Linked DNA regions of Homo sapiens: regions 2 and 3 are each linked to region 1. Evidence: fine-mapped QTL for protein levels in blood plasma. A gene starts in region 1. Each other region holds a variant in brackets. All regions are shown on one strand. Distances are from middle to middle.

Region 1 (8,190 bases):
GGAATGCCCCTGCTTGCTCTCAGCTCCTTTGTATCTCCAGCTCAATCTGAACTGATTCCTTCATTTCCCAAGCTCATTTGCCCTCTGTGTTCAGACTGGGTTTGGGTGAAGGAGGCCTGGCATGAGTCTGGAGGGGGGGAAGGAGAGAGAAGCCAGGGTATGTCCTTCTCTACTCTCCGTGTTTGGGGCTGCATCTCTAGAGTTGGGTACATCTCCTTTGTGGTCCTAGTTCCCCCAGCCAGGGGCCTAGGAGCAGCACCTTTTTTTTTCCTTCCAGCCCTAAGCCTGGTAATAGCTTCGATCCTTGGGTGGTCTCACCACCCCTGGTTGGCTTTTCTGTTCTTCCTTATACTTTATAGCTAGCTTCCCTTAGAAAGTCGCTCTACTGAGCTCCCTGTAGTGGATTTTGTTTTCTGGACTGGACTCTGGCAGATAAAATCATCTTCAAAATATAAAACTCAGAAGTTTAGAAAGCACCTCCATGGCTGGACTCCAAGGCATAGCTGCCTAATATTCAATTCCATTCTAGAAAATAACAATAGTTTATCAATAACACCTTCTATTTATAGGACTCTTTATAGTTTGTAAACTGCTTTTGTACTTATAATCTCATATGAGTCCCAAAGTAACCTTTATAAGATGAGCAGTAGAAGAAACAGAAGTGCCTACACTCATAGTTGGTAGTTGCAGTAGAAGTAGAGAAGATATTTTAATTTAAATCTTCTGCCTCAAAGTCCCAGGGTTAAAATAATAAATTTTTGAATGATTAAATATGAAAAAGCATTTAGTAATAAGAGGAAATGTTCCTAAACTTTATATTAATTATCGTCAAGGCATCTTTTATAGTTTTATCCTTTATTGCATTTCTTATGTTGATTCTTATATGATCATGTGAATATAAATTTGGACAATTATATCACTCTTCAAAAATATAAAACCAGGGCAAACAGTTCTGGAAATTGGACTATAGGAAGAAGAAAGCATAAAAATGAGATGGGCAGATATTAAGCAAAAGAAAGAAATGATAGTATGGGGTGTCAGGGATCTTCTTACAGAACACACACACACACACACATATGGATTAGAAACATACTTGACAATATAGAGTACCTCGGTACAGTTTTGATTTATTGTGACTTATAACAAAGTCTTTCTAGTCTAACTGCATCTTGATGAATATTAACCGAATTGCATAGCCTAATAAACATTCATTTTCTTCCTTTTAAAAATCATTTAGAATTTGGCTTATAATTCTAAGACGTATGCAAGTGGCTGAGTATATACTAATTTCTTAAGCCACCAATCTATCATTTAAAAATTCAGGTAATTACTAAAATGGCATCTATATACCTGGAAGAAAACATCATATTTAATGATTCACAGTTACAAATGTTGCCTCTGCATCCTTGCTGAGCTGCTTTCATTTGAAATACGCATCCCTCCCTTGTCCCCTCTATACCCCCAAGCAGATGTCTTAGGCTTGAATGTGGCCCTGTAATGGAGATGGCATTGTCTGCCTCTGGGCAGGAAAGCTGGCATCCTCTTCTGATCAGTGGTCACTGAATCAATGTTGACATAGCACATTTACTGGAAAATGATGAGAAAGCCCCACTCCAGCTGCTTCTTGGAACATGTTGCTCAAAATAAAATCTTCAGCTGGCCAACTTGAGCTAGGTCAGCAAGACTCATTTTTCCACCGTGAGAGGTGGGAGAGGCACCTGAGCCTCTAGGCCTTGATTGAGTGAGGTCTGTGCATGGGGTCTCGCAAATGTGTGTTGTGAGCAGTACAGCCTCCACAGTACTGTACTGCACACCCTTGTTGCACAGAGTGTGTGCGGAGAAGGGAACACATTTCCCCAACTTCCACTGCCCTCCATGAGGCCCTCTGCTTCCCTGGTCATCCTCATCAGCCTGGTTACCCTAGCAGTCACCCACTCACTCAGGACCTATATATAAGTATGATTGGCAATGGGATGACTATTTGTTTCCATGGTTCTCCAACCAAAAAGGTTATTCTGATAAGTTAGGATGCTGCTCAGACATTATCTAATTAGCACTGTGTCTGCATTGCAGAAAATAACTAACACTCAGCATTTTCACAAGATAATTTGGTCACATCCTGAATATTCAACTGGGTGAGTCAGAGGGAAGAAAAGACACACAAGGAAGTAGGAGCTTGATTTGGGTTAAGCTTGGAGGTACTACGTCCCACCTCTAGCCTCGCTGATGAAGAGAAAATCACAAGTAGGATCCCACAGTATTGGGGTGTTGCAAGAAATACAGAAGAGTTCTTGTCTCTTTGCATTTTTATCTATTTACTAAATCTAGCTGGTTAGCTTTAAAACATTCATGTCAAATTCTTTAAGTTTACAGGAAAATAGTCAAAGATTATTTTACCATGTTATAATTTGAGTCTTTGAGTATCACTCATTAGTATCAGCTGATTTGAAATGCTGCGGCTGCCTCTTGGTTTTCTCAAAAAATCTGTTTTTGGTGTTCCTTAAAAGACAATGTTGTCAGATCTCATAATTCAGCACATGTTTATTGAGAACCTCCTTTGTTAAGAGTGTTAAGTGCTAGATGCTTTCTGTTTGCTTGGTTCTTTTTAAAATAACTGAATTAGGTAGATGCTACTAATTTAAATAGACGTTGCTTGAAAGAAAAACAAATGAAGAGAGCAAGAGATTATCTGAAATATAATTGAATTTGTAAATACTTACTGGTGCTGCCCAGGTCACACTGAAAAGGAGTAGTCCCACACAGAAAACTCGCATCTTTGAGAATCTCTGTAAAAAGACAACAATATCTTACCACAAAGCATTGCCAGTTATAAACTGCAGCCATAAGAAGAGATAAAACACATAGGAATATATAAACACCCTTCCCCTTGGCAGTTCATATCCTTTTGTGTATGTGTGTGTATAGACTATGTATAACTTGCTTATACCCGAGTGTGGACATTTTAAGAACTTTCATATGTCTAGTTATTCCAATGTGAAAATGAAAATTATTCAATATCATTAAAACAGTAAAGTCAGTTGATAGAAATATATTTTATAGACACATTTATTTGCTCTATCATCAGCTCTTCTTCCTCTTGTCTTTAGAAAGAGATTGTTTAATTATTTGTGTAATTCAAAATGACATTAAGTTGATGTAGCAGCTCATAACACACTCTAAGTTTGTCAGGGTAGCAGATTGCACTGTGAGGAAAGCTTATCTGCCTCCGGGCTGGTGCCCTAATCTGTGTCTCATGTTCATTAGCAATGTGTCTGAATTAGTAGCCATCCATGGGCTGGAGAGTGAACTAATTTTTGCAACACTGACATTAATGGCTAACATTTATTGAATACTAAAATGAGCCAAGCACTGGGTCTAAGAATTTTGCATGCATTCAATTATTTGAGCCTCACAACAACCCTACAAGTTAGGCGGCGTTACTATGCCTGTTGTATAGATTAGGAAATAGACACAAAAAGATCAAATAACTTGCTTTAGAATTCACAAATATTAAGGGGCAGAACTGGGATTAGTATCCAGGCAATGTGGCTCTAGACCCAGTTTTCTTCATCAAGACTCTCTGCCACCTTAAATAACTTTCTATTCTTTTATCTTATTACAGAAAAATCCATGTACAGTTGACTTAAAGGCAAATCATATTTTATATTGGGCTCAACAAAATGATGTTCAAAATACTAACATTTAGTTACAAATAAAGGTATTTGTTTATATTTTGGTAAATATACCAACAGGAACTAGTGAGCTCACTTAAGTAGCCATTAGATTGGAAAAAAGTCAACATGTCTTTGGACTATTGATCTTATTATTATATTGTGAAAACAATAAATTTATGCCACTCTGAGATTTCTTGAAGAAAAACTTGTTTTTATGGGAAAAAATAATCTAAATATTCTTGCAATCTTTAAACACCTCAAGGAAAAGCTGGTATTTGGAGAAATGATTGTAACTATTAAATATATTCTAAAATCCTAGGCTATGTTTTTCTAAATTAATGCAATTAGAAGGATCTAAATTCTAACTATAGTTTACCCTTCCAAGCATTTTATAGATCAGGACAACGTAAGTAACTTATGAAATGAGTTAATGCTCATCAGTAGAAATATCAACACAGATGAGGTTTCAAAGTATGAATAAGATCAGATTTTCCTGATTGCAGTTTGTTAAGTGAAGGGATAGAAGAAAACTGAAGTCTGAGTTACTGTGGATCTTGATAATGCTAATAACAAAAAAAAAGAGAAAGTTGCTATCAAATCATCAATTTTAGTTGATGATTTCTAGAGCATGGTAACGCATTTCCTATTTTATAAAACAAAGCACCAAATATTACACAGTTTTGCTCAGTAGAGAAGATTTTCAAAAGTAATAAAACCATACTTGGGTGGCAAGCATCTTAAAAACGTAAACAACTATGATATAAAGCTATTTGCTGTCAAGAACATGAAAGCCAAATTACCTGGTATCTTTCACCTTCAGAATACCTGGCTTCTTGTTGCAGGATTAGAAGTCTCTGGGCATTTTGCTGAAATTTAAAGTTTGTTAGAGTTCCCAATGGCCAATCAGCACTGGCTCACTCAGCGCTAGCAAACAATTTGTTACAAGCGCCCACAGATAACCATAGGGGGTGAAGTAATTTTAATCTAAAAATGTGTTTGTGGTAGAAAGCTACTATCAAATGTTCCAGAAAGTGGGATAAACAGAAAATATAAATACCTCAGTTTGGACATCATGTTGTCAGATAATCAAAATTGATTTCAGAACTGCTAATTAGGACTGACTGAATACCTAACAAGTTTAGAAATGGAAAACATTTTTGCTATCCTTTTATGTAGAAAGTTTATGATGTCAATTTTATCTAAGTGAAATTCAGCAACATTTAACAAAAATGTTTTAGGTGCCTACTGTGTGACAGGCATTGGCGAAACTGCAGTGAACAAAACAAGACAGAAAAAAATCCCTGTCTTCCTGGAGCTTAGAATCCAATAAGGGAGACAGATAATAAACAAGATAAATGAGTTAAATAGATTAGATAGTGACATATACTAAGTCTAAGGAGAAAAAGTATTGTTGGGGAGTAACAAGCATTGGGGGTGGGGACACTGGGTTGAAATTTTAGATAGGAAGTCCTGGGAAGGCCTCAATGAGAAGGCAACTTTTGAGTAAAGACCTTGTTATGGTTTCAATGTACGTGTCCCTCCAAAATTCCCATGTTAGAACTTAAACCCAAGGTGACAGTATTGAGAGATGGGCTCTTTAGAAGGTGATTAAGTCATGAAGGCAGACCCCAGTATGAATGGGATTAATGACCTTATAAAAGGGCAAGAAGAAACTAGCTAGTCCCTTTTTGCCCTTCTGCTTGTCTGCAGTGTGAAGACACAGCATTTGTCCCCTCTGGAGATGCAGTAGCAAGGTGCCAAATTGGAAGAAGAGATAGACAGCCCTCGTCAGGCAATGAACATGCTGGCCTCTTCATTGCGGAATTCCCAGCCTCCAGAACTGTGTGAAATAAATTTCTGTTTTTTATAAATTACCCAGTCTGTGGTATTCTGTAGTAGCAGCATGAACAGACTCAGATAAGCCTGCAGCCATATGACTGTCTATGGGAAGACCATTCCAGGAAGAAGAAATAAGAAAAATAGTGCCCCAGAAATAAAAGCCTTGTGACTTGTTCCAGGAACAGAGAAGAGGCCACTTTGGTTGGAGGCCTGAGCAAGGGGAATAGCAACAAATGAGGTCAGAAGGGTATTAGATGGCAGATGGTATAGGACCTGTAGGTCATTGCAATGCTTTTGACATTGCTATGAGTGAGAAGAAAAGTCCTTGGAGGTTTTAAGCACAGGCATGATTGAGGAGTGACTGAAGTAGGAAAAAGGCAGAGAGAATGGCTAGGAAGCTCTTGTAATAATCCCAGCCAGAGATGATGGAGGCTTGAACCTGAGTGCGGCAGAAGGGATGATGAGACGTGGTCATATTCTGAAGAAGTTTGGGGAAAAATGGTAATAGGATTTGCTGAGGTACCAGATGTGGCCTGTGAGAAAACAATCAAGAATCAGGATGACACCAAGGTTTTGACCTGAGCAACTGGAAGAGTAAAGTTGATTTTTTCTTCATATTGGAAAAAATGCAGAAGAAAATGGTTTTGAGGAAAATATTGTGAGTTTGGATTTAGACAAATTTTATAAGATGGACAATTTAAGACACTCAATTTCTTAATGAAACAAGTAACAAACCTATACTAGAATAAGCCTTTCCAGTGCGATTGCCTGCTCTCTTGTTTTGCCCAAACTGGCTACCAAAATAATTGTAATAGTTTGAGAGGTTCCACTTAATATAAAAATATTATAATACCTGTAAAGGTCATTGACATTATGACTATATATTAAAGCATCAATAAGAAATTATGTAAGAGTTATTTAACCTATACTTTGTGATAAGAACTACCTACAGTGAAACACACCTTTAACAGTTGTATATTATATATACAAATGATATATAATAAGATTTAAGTGTAAACTGTCAATTTATCTCAACCCTCCAAATAGACAAAAACCAAAACATAAAACACAAACAAAACAGTATTTCATAAGTTCTACCTGAGAAAATGGTGCCTTTTCTAGGTCAAGCTAACTCTCTCTTTTTTTTTTTTTATCATATCTAAATTCTGCTGTTCCTCTTTTGAGTATCCAGAGCTGCTTTTCCTCCTCTCCCTCACCTCATGTCTTCTTGTTAAAAAAATTTTTATTTAGGTTTGGAGGTACATGTGAAGGTTCATTACATAGATAAACACATGTCCCTGGGGTTTGTTGTACATATTACTACATCACCCAGGTATTAAGCTCAGTACCCAATAGTTATCTTTTCTGTTCCTCTCCTTCTTCCCACCCTTCACCCTCAAGTAGACCCCAATGTCTGTTGTTTCCTTCTTTGTGTTCATAAGTTCTTATCATTTAGCTCCCACTTATAAGTGAGAACATGTGGTATTTGGTTTTCTGTTCCTGCGTTAGTTTGCTGAAGATAATGGCCTCCAGCTCCAGCCATGTTCCCACAAAGGACATGATCTCTTTCATTTTTATAGCTGCATAATATTCCATGGTGTATACATACCACATTTTCTTTATCCAGTCTGTCACTGATAGGCATTTAAGTTGATTCCATGTCTTTCCCATTGTGAACAGGGCTGCAATGAACAGCCGTGTGCATGTGTCTTTATGGAAGAATGTGTTATATTCCTCCGGGTATATACCCAGTAATGGGATTACTGGATCAAACAGTAGTTCTGCTTTTACAGAACTGCTTTTAAGAACATCTTCCAGGACTAGGTTTGAGCTATTGGGTGGGGCCACTGTTGACTTACAACCATTCAAGCATAGATTTTAGAATATTTGAATATTGTCATTGACAGTGGAAATATTGAACTCTAGAACTCTAGTAGCTTTGGAGGCAAACAGACTTGAGTTCAAATCCTGACTCTACCACCTGTTTACTGTGGCAAGTTGATTAAACAACTAATTTGAACTTTTCTGTGCCTCAGTTTCTCCAACTGAAAATAAGGAGCACAGTATCCATGACCAGAATTTCAGCAAAGTCCAAAAAAAAAAAAAAAAAGGATTTGGGTGATATAGAAAGGAGCTAACAAGGGAATGGAAGTCAAGGAAGGAAAGAAGGCAACAAAGAGTGTTCAGCCAACTCTGAGACTGAATGGAAATATAGAGCTTTCTAAATGGAAGACAAGTGAAATCCACAAAAAATGCTCATTTTCAACTTTGGATATGCTATTGAAGCAATAAATAATTCAGGAATTTCTATAATAATGTGTATATAATGCAGTGTTTTAAGCTGTTACACTGTTTCATAACATTAACTTTATATTTTGAATGATCCAGTTATAGAGCAAACACTTGATATGTGCCTTAGGAAATGTTCATTTTTTTATTGCTATAATTTTATAAATAATTTCAGATATTCCTCAAATGCATTTTTCTTAGTTTCAAATAAATTTCAGTGTGCATGAAAAAGATTTCCCTTTCATTTGAGTGATGGAAAATTAATTATGATCTAGAAAAACCTGTGTTCTAGGATAAGAAAATTTATAGAGTTTTAAGAGAAAAAAACTGGCTTAGCTACTAGTCCTACCAAGGGGTGAACTGGCAGTAGCTAAATATACTGCTCTCA
Region 2 (8,190 bases), 55 kb before region 1:
TTGTGATCACAACCAGTTTCTCTGCCACCAGGTAGGCAGAAAAAAGCCAACACCAAACTGCCCAATCATGGAGATGTCTGCACCAGCCTGAAGAGCCTCCATGCATGCTTTAGTACCAGACTTGGCAATGGTTCTCAAATTATTTATGAGATCAGCTTTGGTCATGCCAATGCCTGTGTCTACCAAAGCCAGGGTACGTTCCTGAGGGTTGGGGATGATGTCAATTTTCAGCTCTTTACCACTGTCCAACTTTGAAGGGTCTGTCAGGCTCTCATAGCGAATCTTGTCCAAGGCATCAGAAGCATTAGAGATCAACTCCTGAAGGAAAATCTCCTCGTTGGAATAGAAGGTATTGATGATGAGGGATATGAGTTGGGCAATTTCTGCCTGAAAGGCAAAAGTCTCCACCTCCTCCTCTCCATGGTGCACTTCCTCAGGCATCTTGAAAAGAAAAGGCTTACACGTACTGGAGAGCAATGTGAGCTTGCTTTCTGATACCCAGGCAGCACCAACGCTGTGCTGGAGTGACTTGAGAGCATCTTTAATCCATCTTGAGTTAATTTTTGTATAAGGTGTAAGGAAGGGGTCCAGTTTCAGTTTTCTGCATATGCCTAGCCAGTTTTCCCAGCATCATTTATTGAATAGGAGATCTTTTCCCTGTTGCTTGTTTTTGTCAGGTTTGTTGAAGATCAGATGGTTGTAGATGTGTGGCATTATTTCTGATGTCTCTGCTCCATTCTATTGGTCTTTGTCTGTTTTGGTGCCAGTACCACACTGTTTTGGTTACTGCATTATTGTAGTATAGTTTGAAGTCAGGTAGCATGATGTCTCCAGCTTTGTTCTTTTTGGTTAGGATTGTCTTGGCTATACATGACCTTCTTTGATTCCAAATGAAATTTAAAGTAATTCTTTTCTAATTCTGTGAAGAATGTCAGTGGTAGTTTGATGGGAATAGCATCAAATCTATAAATTACTTTGGGCAGCATGGTCATTTTCACAATATTCATTCTTCCTATCCATGAGGATGGAATGTTTTTCCATTTGTTTGTGTTCACTCTTATTTTATTGAGCAGTGGTTCATGTTTCTCCTTGAAGAGGTCCTTCACATCCCATCTTAGCTGTATTCTTAGGTATTTTATTTTCTTGGTAGTGATTGTGAATAGGAGTTTGTTCATGATTTGGCTCTCTGCTTGTTTATTGTTGGTGTGAGGAATGCTTTTGATTTTTGCACATTGATTTTGTATCCTGAGACTTTGCTGAAGTTGCTTATCAGCTTAAGGAGTTTTTGGGCTCAGATGGTGGGGTTTTCTAAATATAGGATCATGTCATCTGCAAACAGAGACAGTTTCACTTCCTCTCTTCCTATTTGAATACTCTTTATTTATCTTGCCTGATTGCCCTGGCCAGAACTTCCAATACTATGTTGAATAGGAGTGGTGAGAGAGGGCATCTGTGTCTTGTACCAGTTTTCAAAGGGAATGCTTCCAGCTTTTGCCAATTAAATATGATATTGGCTGTGGGTTTGTCATAGATAGTTCTTATTATTTTGAGATATGTTCCATCAATACCTAGTTTATTGAAAGTTTTTAACCTGAAGAGATGTTGAATTTTATCAAAGGCCTTTTCTGCATCTATTGAGAAAATCATGTGGTTTTTGTCTTTGCTTCTGTTTATGTGATGGATTACATTTATTGATTTGCATATATTGAACCAGCTTTGTATCCTAGGGATGCAGCTGACTTGATTGTGGTGGATAAGTTTTTTAATGTGCTGCTGGATTTGGTTTGCCAGTATTGTATTGAGGATTTTCACATCAATATTCATCAGGGATATTGGCCTTAAGTTTTCTTTTTTTTATTGTGTCTCTGGTAGGTTTTGGTATCAGGATGATGCTGGCTTCATAAAATGAGTTAGGGAGGAGTCCTTCCTTTTCAATTGTTTGGAATCATTTCAGGAGGAATGGTACCAGCTCTTTATACCACTGGTAGAATTCAGCTGTGAATCCATCTGGTCCTGTGCTTTTTATGGTTGGTAGGCTATTAATTACTGCCTCAATTTCAGAACTTGTTATTGATCTATTCAATAACAAGATTTATTCTATACTATAAACACCTCTATGCAAATGAACTAGAAAATCTAGAAGAAATGGATAAATTCCTGGACACATACAACCTCCCAAAACTAAACTATCGGGGGAACCCACCCCCGATAATTCAACATTATTTCACGTAGGTTCTTTTCTATTTCCCTAAGTGTCTGCCAGTCTGAGAAATAAAGGCAAAGAGCACAAAAGAGAGAAATTGTAAAGCTGGGTGTAAAATAATAATTCTTGTTATTGACTTCTTCCTGGTTTAGTGTTGCGGGAAGTCAGTGACCCCGAATGGAGGGACTGGCTGAAGCCATGGCAGAAGAACATAAATTGTGAAGATTTCATGGACATTTATTAGTTCCCCCAAATTAATACTTTTATAATTTCTTATGCCTGTCTTTACTGCAATCTCCCGAACATAAATTGTGAAGAGTTTATGGACATTTATCACTTCCCCAGTCAATACTCTTGTGATTTCCTATGCCTGTCTTTAATCTCTTAATCCCGTCATCTTTGTAAGCTGAGGATGTATGTCACTTCAGGACCCTGTGATGATTGCGTTAACTGCACAAATTGTTTAAACAATATGAAATCTGGGCACCTTGAAAAAAGAACAGGATAACAGCGATGTTCAGGGAACAAGGGCGATAACCATTAGGTCTGGCTGCCTGAGAGCTGGGCAGAACAGAACCATATTTCTCTTCTTTCAAAAGCAAATAGGAGAAATATCGCTGAATTCTTTTTTTCAGCAAAGAGAATGCCTTCCTAGGGGAAGGTCTCTGAAATGGCTGCTCTGGGAATGTCTGTCTTTTACGGTTGTAGGTAAGGGAAGAAATAAGCCCTGGTCTCCCATAGCGCTCCCAGGCTTATTAGGACGAGGAAATTCCTGCCTAATAAACTTTGGTGAGACCGGTTGTCCGCTCTCAAACCCTGTCTCCTGATAAGATGTTATCAATGACAATGCGTGCCCGAAACTTCATTAGTCATTTTAATTTCACCCGGGTCCTGTGACCTCACCCTGCCTCCATTTGCCTTGTAATATTTTATTACCTTCTGAAGCATGTGATCTCTGTGACCCAACACCCTATTTGTACACTCCCTCCCCTTTGAAAATCACTATTAAAAACTTGCTGGTTTTGTGGCTTGGGGGGCATCACGGAACCTGCCGACACATAATGTCTCCCCTGGACACCCAGCTTTACAATTTCTCTCTTTTGTGCTCTTTGCCTTTATTTCTCAGACCAGCAGACACTTAGGGAAATAGAAAAGAACCTACGTGAAATAACGTTGAATTATCGGGGGTGGGTTCCCCCGACAGTTTAGTTTTGGGAGGTTGTATGTGTCCAGGAATTTATCCATTTATTCTAGATTTTCTAGTTCATTTGCATAGAGGTGTTTATAGTATTCTCTGATGGTAGCTTGTATTTCTGTGGGATCAGTGGTGATATTCAATTTATCATTTTTTATTGTGTCTATTTGATTCTTCTCTCTTTTCTTCTTTATTAGCCTGGCTAGCGGTCTATCTATTTTGTTAATTTTTTCAAAAAAATCAGCTCCTGGATTCATTGCTTTTTTGGAGGGTTTTTATATCTCTATCTCCTTCAATTCTGCTCTGATCTTAGTTATTAATAATTTTTAATTTGATGGGATAAATTGTAAGTCAGGAGTTACACATGGGCAGAACAGGAAGGAAATGAAAACGTACTGAGTGACTGTTACATGTTACATGTTACAGTATTAGCTCATTTAATCCTGAGAACAGTACTGTAGGGAAAGAATTATTATGCCCATCTCACAGATAAGGAGTTACACAGACTTGGCCCTTCATTATTTTCAACTGTGTGATCCTAGGCAAGTGATTTAACCTTTTTAGCCCTCAGTTTCCTCATTGGCTAAAATGGAGACAGTAAAGTATGCAGGTCCTAGGGGTATTGTCTGGATTAAATTCAATAACAGACATTAAAGTTTTAGCCCAGCACCTGCCTTATGACAGTTTATACATACTGGCTTGCTATGTGCCAGGTACTGGCTGAGAAACTTAAATTTATCATCTCATTAAATCTTCACACAAATGTTATGGTAGGCACTCAATTGTTATGTTGTTCTTACAAGTAATAACAAGCTTTATTAATTATTTTACTGTGGCTCAGAGAGATTCTTACTCATCCAAGATCAATAAACTAACAAGTGGCAGAACTGATATTCCA[A/G]TTTAGCTTTATTTGAGGGCAAAAGCCAGACACTTTTAAGAATATCTCACATTAGAAAATGATGGGAATACTCATAAATTACCTAAGCTATTTCATCTCCCTGTCTCTGATTTGGAGACCTATAAGAGAATAAGCCACTGCTAGGTACAGGATCACATTTTAAAAATCGTGACGTATTTAAAAAATGGAGAAAAATGAAAATGTGATGTGGATGGAAAGAATGTGTGTATGAAAACAATCAAGGTTGTAGCTGGAAGAGGGCCTACAATATCAGTGATACTTGAGCATCTATGATTGTGCCTAGTCTTTCAGTATGGCATTAAAATAAAGTGCATATTAACATGAGTGCATATGCCTGAGCATTGAGAATCTATGCAACATTATGTCTCATGTCTCATTAGACAGGAGACAAAGTGAGGCACATGAGAACATACAATCGCTTTACTAGTTTTAAATTCCACACCTAAGTTATAAACCAGATTTCTGCAACTACATGCATGTGACACAATTATAAATATATAGGCAGCATCTAATGTACTTTTATTAGGTACCCCTGTGAATAAATCCACTATTTTTGGATGGAGACTTCTGCTTAGGGTGGAGGCATGAGGAAGAGAAAGAGGAAGAGATGTTTGCTCAATTACCACTGGGTTCATTTTAGAATTTAGGATTTTATTTTCCTAATGTGGTTTGCAAATTTAGGGACAGATGTGAACTTTGCTAGACGAGATTTTGAAGACTATCTTGGAGAAGGATTGAGCCAGGAGAAGAAATATGAACTTGGCATCTGACAGGGAATTTGAAAGAAAATAGAAATGTTTAGTGTGTTTTATTATTATTGTTTTATTTTCTGTGTGGCATATGTGTTTCTGTCACCCATGAAATTGTCATCCAAATTTGCCTTTTGGGAGCTAATGCTTGAAAGAGTAATTGTTGTCTGTGTGTTTTTGTTTGGTTTGGTGGAAGGATAAAGAGGGCCCTACTTTAAGGTGGGGGAGAACACACTCACCTACGTATGACTACTTTTTCCAGCCTGCAAAAGCCATAGCCTTGAACCTGTTGTACTCTCAGTTTATAACTCTTTTCCGTAAATACTTATTTCTGTTTATACAAGACCTTTCCACCTCTGAGAATATGATACAATTTCCCTGAGCAGGTTAGTACAAGTTAGGCAAAGTGTTGGGTCAGAAAACAAGTGACAACAAAACGTGGCATTATGATGAACTTAAATTGACCCTGATTGGATCTGGTGTATGTGGCCTCTTGGAGTGAATTCTGTCTTCATTTGGTACATGGACTGAAAGTTTGTGGGGCCCTTGTACTGCCCATATCTTTTTTAATTGGGAATCTCTGTACTGGTAACTGGAAACAAGTTTTACTCCTTTTTGGTGATTCCTCCTGCAGACATCAATTAAACTTGACTATAGCACTAACTTGCTTAGTTAAAGCAAGAAGAAAATTCCTTTGCTCTTGTACTCTCTGCTGGGGCCTCTGGTGGATGCTGAATGCCCTGTTGACCTCTGACAAAATCTGCAGCTGGTGAATTTGTTACCTATTCTCCCGGTTGGGTCGGGCCCAGTGGTTCTCCTCTGCTGCCTTAACCCTACCTGGGGTTGCTGGCATTGTAGGCCCCTCACATCTCTGCCATGTCATCCATGCAGCCTTAATCCAGCCTGCCTGCTTTATGACGTCATTCACCATGGCTGTCCCTCAGCAAGATTTCCACCCCTCTGGTCAGCTCTCTTCTGTGCCTACTCTGGGGCACATTGGAGTTTCCGGATTTCTCTCTCGCACTTCAGAGCTTAGAGAGGAGAACAAGTGCTAATCTGACTGTCTGTCTGCCTAATCACAGCACACTACTGTGTCTCTGTTATATCCTGGGGAGCATCTTTTCGGATGTTATGTTTCCTTGTGAAGCTTGATCTCTTCTTGACTGTTCCCCGGAAAGCCAGGCAATTATTCCTTCTGCTCTAGGAAATGCCCAACCCTGTCATGAAATTTATCTGGGTTTTCTATCTCTTTGCCTCTTGGGCTCAAGTTCAGGGAAGTCTGACTGTACATTTCTGTCTTCATGTATCCTTGTTCCTCTCCCCCGAGCTTTCCTCCTTCCCTCCTTCCTCCACCTGCTACACGCAACTTCACATTTCATCTCCCTCACTCCAGCTTTATTCTTGGCTTTATTCCATGGTGTATGAGGAGACGGGTGGAAATAAAAGGATGTACTAACAAAAGAACATCAATTAGAAAACATTTAGCAAACGTAGTGTACTTATTTCATGTTCAAAGCACATGAGAGAACTGAAAGATAAGAAAGGACAAGTTCATCATTCTCACAGACCTTACGAAAGTCTAGTTGGAAGATGTGCCCAGCGAACACTAAGAAAGACAAATGAGGGTAGACCATACAATAGAAATGGGCAATATTTTGAGAGATTTGGAGAGGGAGATGCCTAATGGAGGGTGAGAGTGGAGAATTTTTGAGGGAAGAAAGGAGAAGTCATAGACAGCAGGTGGAGAGAAACGGGTTGGACAAGGCAGAAAGAAAGGCACGGTGACATGGTAGAATGACAGTGTAACCGTCTGTGCTGTGCAGTCACGTGTGGCAGGAAACACATCTGGAAGTCTGATCGGGTCTCAGGCTCTCTGGCCTCTGTATCGCCGTCTTATCAGAAGAGAAAATGTAGGCAAATCTTTACCAACCCGATCATACTTTCTCTGCTAATCTCTTATCTCTAAGTAAATTGTTTGCTTGTCCAATTAAAAATTCCCACCCCAAACTTGCATAGTTGGATAGTTAGAACCCTTCTCTTCTGACTCATGAGGGAGAGAGAAATTATAACTTAGTTTACTTTTATAGAGCTATTTGTGGGACTGTCTGGTTTGCCTGTGAATAATGGTTCTTTTCTTTCTTCGTTTCTCACCAGCCAGTGTGGTTTGTGATTTAATAGCCAGGCAGAACACTAAAATTAATACTTGGTAATATTTTAAGCCCAAATGAGGACAAGAGAGGGGGAAATTTTAAGTTATTAGTTTTTTTGTGTGGGAGCTTACTGTCTCCTTTGGAAAGCATTTAGGCCAGGCAGAACCTCACCATTAGTTTTTTGTTTTTGTTTTTTTCAAATGAGCGTGAAAAAGGAAATGTCCCTGTTCCTGCTTTATTTTTCCTTTAAACACAAATCAATTCCTAGATGAGAAGATAGGGTTTAAAACCCAGTTCCTGGCACAATGAAGTGATGGCTTGCAGAGATCAATTTACTTAAAAAAAAAAAAGATACAATTCTGCTTCTTTTGTGAGTAAAGTTTTTTTGTGTGTGTCAATGGAAGAGAGACATGTTCTTTTTGTGTGTGTGTAGGTATTGGGGAGTTCAGGTAAAGAAAGAGTGTAAAAAATAAGACTTACATAAGATACCTAAGCAGGTGCACTTTACCAGAATAAGATTTGTGGCCACCTTATTTTCCCTTTTTCTTTAATGCCTTTGAAGGAAGCTAATTTTTTTTTTCCTAAAAGAAAACAATTCTTCCTCTTGCAATAGTAGAACCAAGAAGAAATGGACACTTGACCACTCTTTGCTTTGGGGAGGAGCATTTATTTTTTCTAGCGTCTGCTAGGAAATATTCAGATAATACAGAATATGCATTTTGGAAAGATGTGGGCCTGCACATATTTCCCATTATTGCCTCTGATGATGTACTGTGTACAATCATGTTAATGGACTTGTCATAAAATTGAATAAATGATTGTAAGGAATATTTATTTTTTGTTATTTGTTTAGATTTGCTTTTCATTTCTACTGTTAAAATCCTTGATAGAATTTGGATCTGTGTCCCCACTCAAATATTATGTTGATTTGTAATCCCCAATGTTAGAGGGCCTGGTGGGAGGTTAACTGGATG
Region 3 (8,190 bases), 77 kb after region 1:
TTCTGCTATTAGGGCTTCCCCATCTCTTATTGCTGGCTCTTTCTGAGTGCTCAAAGACTCCAGAGCTTCTTGCTATTATCATCTTTCCAGAGACTACTGAAGAATGAGATATTTACTTACTTGTTTGTTCATTCAACAAGTATCTAGAGATCATCTACACATGATCATAAAGTTATGGGATCCAAGGTTATAAAAAGAAATGAAGAATACAATCTGAAACTTGCAATCCAAGGAGGAAATACTCACACATTTAAAACATTTACACATTTAAATACAAAATTCAAAAGTTATATCACAATGCAAACGCATGAGTTAGTTGAGAAAATGTTAGCCAATGGAGACTGTATTTTCCAGCAGGGTGAATTTGGGCATGGCCAGACTGGCAAGTGTGGAAACCAAGCTATCTGGAAGGGTAGGCCGTATTTAGTGAGGAATCATTTGTTTTCAGGGAACAAAAATCCTCTCAAGATATCTCAAGAAATGGGAACTCAACTAGAGCAATATAATGAAACTGGAATGTCAGAGGCAGCCTCTCTGTCTCTCTTTCCATGTGATCTCTCTGCTCTTTCCTGTCCTAGTCTCTTCTCTACAAACTACCTTCCTTCATAGGGGTCTTGATTTCTGCTCTTCCTTAACCTCAGTTTAGATGCACCTTTTCGGCCAAGATCTCACCTTCAATTCCAACACTGGAAATGAGCCAGAGATAAACTCTTATTAGTAGTAATGACATAAAACTGTGCTTTTGTGTTACTTTTTCCAGAAGCACCCAGAAACCCAGATGTAGGGATGAAGAAGCCAGATGGTATAAATGGTTGTAGAATTGGCAGGATGTAGACTGAATGTGGTGAAAGCAAACAGAAGCAAAGGCGTACAAGGTATGGCAAGAAAGCGTTTCAACTAATATAATCAAAATTGTATTAGGGAGTTCAAAGGGACAAAAACAGTGGGGAAAAGAGGAAAATCCAGGGACTGGAATGAAGAGATCAATAAAATGTATTTAATTTTCCATTTGCACTAGCTTTCCCCTTGTAATTAACATGCACAAGGTACTTTGTCTTGCTGAAAGTGTTACTGTAGTAAATTGATGTGTAACAAGGAATTTCCCAGGAAAATCATCTGTGTTGGAGATAACGGGTAGAAATTGGGAACCAGGAAGTATCTTGATGGCAACTGTAGTGCTTGTGTAGGAGTAGATGGATTAATTTTATGTTAATTCAGTGGTGGGAAGGAAGACTATCCAGTTGGCTAGTAGGTGAGTAGTGCTGAAGATACTATTCTGGGAGGCAATCATTTATCTCTGGTTATTGGTTTAAGAATGGTCAGCTAATGGCATTGAATTTCAGTGGGTAGAAAAGAGTTTGTAAATAAAAATGTGGGTTCTAGTCTGAAATAAGATAGCTAAGGAGTCTATATAGATGGAAGATGATAATTCTGAGCATAAATTTCTACAGGTGCTATGGGGAGTTTATTCTTTAGTGTATTAGAATCCTAGTCATTTTGGTAAAGCATCAGTGTTCATGAGTATGAACTCTTTGTCACACACTGGACACACACACACACACCTCTGAACTTTGTACTTATTCCCAAAGGATACTCCATGGGATATCTGAGCACCAGGAGTGCCGGCACACAAATCTTGAACTAGAAGACCTAAGTTCCAGAGAGCTTCCCATGGTGCCAGTCCTGTGCACACAGGCAGAGAGAGGAAGAGACTGGGTCTCGGGTGGAGGAGTCAGTTGATGATGTCTGTGCCCCTGAATTTGGTGATGAGATAAAATAGAGACCAAAGCCAGGACCTTAATGCATGGACCCTGTGCTGTTTTTGCTAAGAAGAAAATGGCCAGGAGGGAGGGCCAGCACAGATATCTGACTGCAAATTGCATCAGACAAGGTTAATTAGTTAATCTAGTAGTCTGTACATTTTTTACTCTAATAGGCTAAACATTTATTCAGGTGACCAAGTACTATTTGAGACTGAGACCCAGAGGGGGTATGTTGCTTCTGAAGGTTGATACATCCCGGTTGCATGATTCCTAGTTCCTGGCACGTAGGGTCTCCCAAGATTTATAGTTGAGAATATATAGTCTTATTTTCCCAGATGGTATAGTTTTGAATGATATGGATGAAATTGTGGGAAATATTAGTCCAGAATCACAAATGGGTCCATTTTAGTCACTGGCCCTCAGTTCATGTCAATGAATGTGAGCAATCTTTGGATAGCATCTTCTTTGGGAGATGGAAGAACTGTATTTCAAAGGTAAATAAGGATACAATTAAAACAGATGACCTCACATCTGTGTCCATATGCTTGGCATAAGCCTCCAAGTGGCTGTGACTCTTGAACTACGTTCAGAAAATGGCACCCCAGAATATATATATGTCTGTAACATTCCTCATGCCTTTTAAAAATTAAGATAAAATTTACTTAACATAAATTAACTTTTGAAAAGTGTGCAACTCATTGGCATTTAGTACATTCACAATGTTGTGCAATCATCACGTCTATGTAGTTCTAAAACATTTCATCATCCCAAAAGGAAACTCCAAAATCATGAAGCACTTTATGTCTTTTTGTATTCATACCATTTCCAACTTCCTGGAGGTTCTTCTGTCTCCTACCCATCTGTGGAAATTCAAACCAGGTTATGTTGAAACTAAAATAGTTAGAAAAAGGGAATGAGACAGGAACAAGCCTGAGGGTGGGCCCAGTAGCTGGGATCCCAGGTGGACTTACGCCATGTTCTGCCTTCAATCGGAAGTTCTCTTGGGAGATCTGCATTAAGCAGTACGTTCTTGTTTTCTATTTTTTAAACTTTAACTTTTATTTGTATATATATATAAAAATACTTTTACATTAATGCATAATGCAGATTTGATTTTTTTAATTTCAGCTTTTATTTTAGGCACAGGGGGTACATGTGCAGGTTTGTTATATGGGTATATTGCAACCACGTAGTAAGCATAGTACCCAATAGGCACTTTTGCAACCCATTCCCCTTTCTCTCCCTCTCCCCTTCTGGTAGTCTGCAGTGTTTATTGTTCCCGTGTTTACATCCATTGTGCTCAATGGTTAGTTCCCATTTATAAATGATGACATGAGATATTAAAACAGATGCTGGCAAGGCTGAAGAGAAAGGCAATGCTTATACACTCTTGGTGGGAACGTAAATTAGTTCAGCCACTATGGAAAGAAGTTTGGAGATTTCTCAGAGAACTTAAACCAGAACTACCATTTGACCCAGTAGCCCATTACTGGGTATATACCCAAAGGAAATGGATCCTTATACCAAAAAGACACATGCACTCGTATGTTCTTTGCTGTGCTATTCACAATAGCAAATACATAGAATCAACCTGCCTTCCCAGGAATGGTGATTGGATAAAGACGATATGGTTCATACACACCATAGAATACTACCCAGCCATAAAAAAGAACTGTCCTTTGCAACAATGTGGATGCAGCTAGAGGCCATAATCATAAGCAGATTATTATTTCAAGTACAACCTTTCTTTGCATTTTTGGTTCTCCCTTTTCCTTCTCCTCACACTCATAACCTGCCTCCTCCACCCCACATATATTCTCTCATTCATAACAACTTAGTATGTATCCTTCCACTTCTTCATTTCTATATGTTCATAGAATCACATACAGACATTTATTGACTATAAGATGCATATATTTTT[T/C]CTTTTCTTTTATAAAAATTATTATATGTGAATACCTGTATAACCACCCATCTTATATATTTTACACAACAATATAGATGTCATGAATATCACTTCAACTATTTAGCTCTGATTTCTTCTTCTTAATAAATATCATATAGCATGACTGTGGCATAATTTATACCATAATTCTCCAATTGATGGTCATTTGTTATGCTTTCATCTATTTATTTATTCTTTTCCCACTATTAATAAGAGTACAATAGACTTTCTTATAACATGTCATTGTATACCACAAGCTTGATTTACATAGGATAGATTCCCTGAAGGGGTATTAAATCAAAGCATATGCATTAATTTTAAAATTTCAACACGTATTTCTAAGCTGCTTTTAGAAAAGCAGTGGCAACAATTTCCACTTTGGAGAGAGCGCTATTTATTACACCTTTGCCAGCTTGGTAAGTGTGCAATAATATTCATTGTTACTTTAATCTGTATTTCACTACCAGTAAATTCGACCATCTTTTCATATTTATGAGATACCTAGGTTTCCCATACATATTTCTTGCTGACTTTTCTGTCTTTTACTTCTCCATTTTTAGTATAGCTACCACTTTGTCTTAATATATGTTGTAATTATCTTCTTTAAATCCATTGTTACTTCATTTTTATTAAAAATATATTGGTTTTTGTTCTGTTTTAGCTCCAAGTATATAAGCACTTCATCATCTATAGACTGTTGTTAGGTCTCCTAGGCCTTCTTACAAGATTTGTATTATTCATTTTCCCATTTAATTATTTAATTCATGTTAATTTTTAAATTTTATATTGGAAAAATAAGTATCCGGTTGTATTTTTTTCAAAAAGTATGAAATGGTTTGGCTGTGTCCACACTCAAATCTCATCTTAAATTGTAGTTCCCATAATCCCCATGTGTCATGGGAAGGGAGGAACCAGGTGGAGATAATTAAATCATGGGGGTGGTTTCCCCTATTCTGTTCTCATGATAGTAAGTTCTCACAAGATGTGACGGTTTTACAAGGGGCTTTCCCCTTTGCTGGGCACTCATTCTTCTCTCTTGCCTATTGCCATGTAAGACGTGATACTGAATGGGCAAAACTGGAAGAATTCCCTTTGAAAACTGGCACAAGACATGGATGCCCTCTCTCACCACTCCTATTCAACATACTGTTGGAAGTTCTGGCCAGGGCAATCAGGCAGGAGAATGAAATAAAGGGTATTCAATTAGGAAAAGAGGAAGTCAAATTGTCCCTGTTTGCAGATGACATGATTGTATATTTAGAAAACCCCATCATCTCAGCCCAAAATCTCCTTAAGTGGATAAGCAACTTCAGCAAAGTCTCAAGATACAAAATCAATGTGCAAAAATCACAAGCATTCTTATACACCAATAACAGACAAACAGCCAAATCATGAGTGAACTCCCATTCGCAATTGCTTCAAAGAGAATAAAATACCTAGGAATCCAACTTACAAGGGATGTGAAGGACCTCTTCAAGGAGAACTACAAGCCACTGCTCAACGAAATAAAAGAGGATACAAACAAATGGAAGAACATTCCATGCTCATGGATAGAAAGAATCAATATCGTGAAAATGGCCATACCGCCCAAGGTAATTTATAGATTCAATGCCATCCCCATCAAGCTACCAATGACTTTCTTCACAGAATTGGAAAAAACTACTTCAAAGTTCATATGGAACCAAAAAAGAGCCTGCATTGCCAAGTCGATCCTAAGCCAAAAGAACAAAGCTGAAGCCATCACACTACCTGACTTCAAACTATACTACAAGGCTACAGTAACCAAAACAGCATGGTACTGGTACCAAAACAGAGATATAGACCAATGGAACAGAACAGAGTCCTCAGAAATAACACCACACATCTACAACCATCTGATCTTTGACAAACCTGACAAAAACAAGAAATGAGGAAAGGATTCCCTATTTAATAAATGGTGCTGGGAAAACTGGCTAGCCATATGTAGAAAGCTGAAACTGGATCCCTTCCTTACACCTTACACAAAAATTAATTCAAGATGGATTAAAGACTTACATGTTAGACCTAAAACCATAAAAACCCTAGAAGAAATCCTAGGCATTACCATTCAGGACATAGGCATGGGCAAGGACTTCATGTTTAAAACACCAAAAACAATGGCAACAAAAGCCAAAATTGACAAATGGGATCTAATTAAGCTAAAGAGCTTCTGCACAGCAAAAGAAAACACCATCAGAGTGAACAGGCAACCTACAGAATGGGAGAAAATTTTTGCAACCTACTCATCTGACAAAGGGCTAATATCCAGAATCTACAATGAACACAAACAAATTTACAAGAAAAAAACAAACAACTCCATCAAAAAGTGGGTGAAGGATATGAACAGACACTTCTCAAAAGAAGACATTTATGCAGCCAAAAAACACATGAAAAAATGCTCATCGTCACTGGCCATCAGAGAAATGCAAATCAAAACCACAATGAGATACCATCTCACACCAGTTAGAACAGTGATCATTAAAAAGTCAAGAAATAACAGGTGCTGGAGAGGATGTGGAGAATTAGGAACACTTTTACACTGTTGGTGGGACTGTAAACTAGTTCAACCATTGTGGAAGTCGGTGTGGCGATTCCTCAGGGACCTAGAACTAGAAATATCATTTGACCCAGCCATCCCATACTGGGTATATACCCAAAGGATTATAAATCATGCTGCTATAAAGACACATGCACACATATGTTTATTGTGGCACTATTCACAATAGCAAAGACTTGGAACCAATCCAAATGTCCATCAATGATAGACTGGATTAAGAAAATGTGGCACATATACACCATGGAATACTATACAGCCATAAAAAAGGATGAGTTCATATCCTTTGCAGGGACATGGATGAAGCTAGAAACCATCATTCTGAGCAAACTATCGCAAGGATAGAAAACCAAACACTGTCTGTTCTCACTCATAGGTGGGAATTGAACACTGAGAACACTTGGACACAGGAAGGGAAACATCACACACTGGGACCTGTTGTGGGGTGGGGGGAGGGGGAGGGGGAGGGATAGCATTAGGAGATATACCTAATGTAAATGACGAGTTAATGGGTGCAGCACACCAACATGGCACATGTATACATATGTAACAAACCTGCACATTGTGCACATGTACCCTAGAACTTAAAGTATAATTAAAAAAAAAGAGATAATTTAGGGTATCTGGCAGAAAAAATTTCTAAGCAGCAAACCATTCAAGCTGTGACTTGGGTGCTCTTAAAAGCATTCATTTTTTATTCATTCACAAAGATATGGTTTGGAATTGGAACTTATGTTTAAAGGAAAGCAAAGCATAAAATTTCAGAAAATTTGCAGCCTAACAATGCAATAGAAAAAAAAATTTCTAAGGAGAAATTCAAGCTGGCTGCAGAAATTTGCATAAGTCACAAGAAGCCAAATGTTAACCACAAAAACTATGGATAAAATGTCTCCAGGGCATGTCAAAGGTCTGCATGGCAGCCCCTCCCATCACAGGCCAAAATGCTTAGGGGGAAAAATAGTTTTGTGTACTGGCCCCAGGGCCTGGCTGCTTTGTGCAGTCCTGGGGCATGGTGCCCCACGTCCCAGCCATGGCTAAAAGAGGCCAACATAAAGCTCAGGCAATTGCTCCAAAGGATGTGAGCCCCAAGCCTTGGTGGCTTACATGTGGTGTTGGGCCTGCAGGTGCACAGAAGTAAAGAATTAAAATTTGAAAACCTCTGACTACATTTCAGGTAATGTGCAGAAATGCCTGGATGTCCAGGCAGAAGTTTGCTGCAGGAGCAGAGCCTTCATGTAGAACCTCTGCTAGGGCAGTGCAGAAGGGAAATGGAGTTGGAACTACCACACAGTGTCCCCACTGGGGCATTGCCTAGTGGAACTGTGAGAAAAGTGCCACTGTGCTCCAGACCCCAAAATGGTAAATCCATCAACAATTTGCACTGTGCACCTGAAAAAGCCATAAACACTCAAAGCAGCCTATGAAAGCAGCCAGGAGGGGGGCTGTACCCTGCAAAGCCACAGGGGTGGAGCTTCCAAAGGCTGTGGAAGCCCACCTCTTGCATCAGTGTAATCTGAATGTAAGACATAAAGTCAAAGAAAATGATTTTAAAACTTTAAAGTTTAATAACTGCCATATTGGATTTTGGACTTGCATGGGGCCTGTACTCCCTTTGTTTTGGCCAATTTCTCCCATTTGGAATGGGTGTATTTACCCAATGCTTGTACCCCATTGTATCTGGAAAGTAACTAACTTGTTTTTAATTTTCTAGGGTCATAGGCAAAAGGGCCTTGCTTGTCCCAAATAAGACTTTAAACTTGAACTTGTAAGTTAATGCCAGAATAAGTTAAGATTTTGGGGGACTTTTGGAAGGGCATAGTTGTGTTTTAAATTGTAAAAACATAAAATTTGGGAGGGGTCAGGGATGGTATAATATGTTTTGGCTGTATCCCCACCCAAATCTCATCTTAAAT

Direction of the effects. Positions count from the first base shown, and alleles are read on the strand shown. Strength reflects both the effect of a copy and how common the allele is.
With allele A in place of G in region 2, the plasma level of the protein whose gene starts at base 4,520 in region 1 is higher (moderate association).
As copies of T replace C in region 3, the plasma level of the protein whose gene starts at base 4,520 in region 1 goes down (weak association).

Evidence for each region. PIP is the chance, under the fine-mapping model, that this variant and not a neighbour inherited with it causes the effect. The UK Biobank Pharma Proteomics Project read protein levels with antibody pairs (Olink). The fine-mapping took linkage between variants from a reference panel, not from the people measured, so its PIPs are less certain.
Region 2: its variant is fine-mapped to the plasma level of the MEPE protein (UK Biobank, PIP above 0.99).
Region 3: its variant is fine-mapped to the plasma level of the MEPE protein (UK Biobank, PIP 0.96).

The regions. Positions count from the first base shown.
Region 1 is chr4:87,829,299-87,837,488 of GRCh38, reverse strand. It overlaps MEPE (matrix extracellular phosphoglycoprotein), which reads right to left and starts at 4,520. Exons shown (of 4, transcript NM_020203.6): 1 at 4,475-4,520; 2 at 2,721-2,786. The coding sequence starts at 2,774.
Region 2 is chr4:87,884,094-87,892,283 of GRCh38, reverse strand. It overlaps the pseudogene HSP90AB3P. Among named protein-coding and RNA genes, the nearest start is that of MEPE, 55 kb to the right of the region's middle. RefSeq lists an enhancer at 1-254. The variant A/G (reference allele first, on the strand shown) is at 4,297.
Region 3 is chr4:87,752,787-87,760,976 of GRCh38, reverse strand. No RefSeq gene overlaps it. Among named protein-coding and RNA genes, the nearest start is that of DMP1-AS1, 24 kb to the right of the region's middle. The variant T/C (reference allele first, on the strand shown) is at 3,685.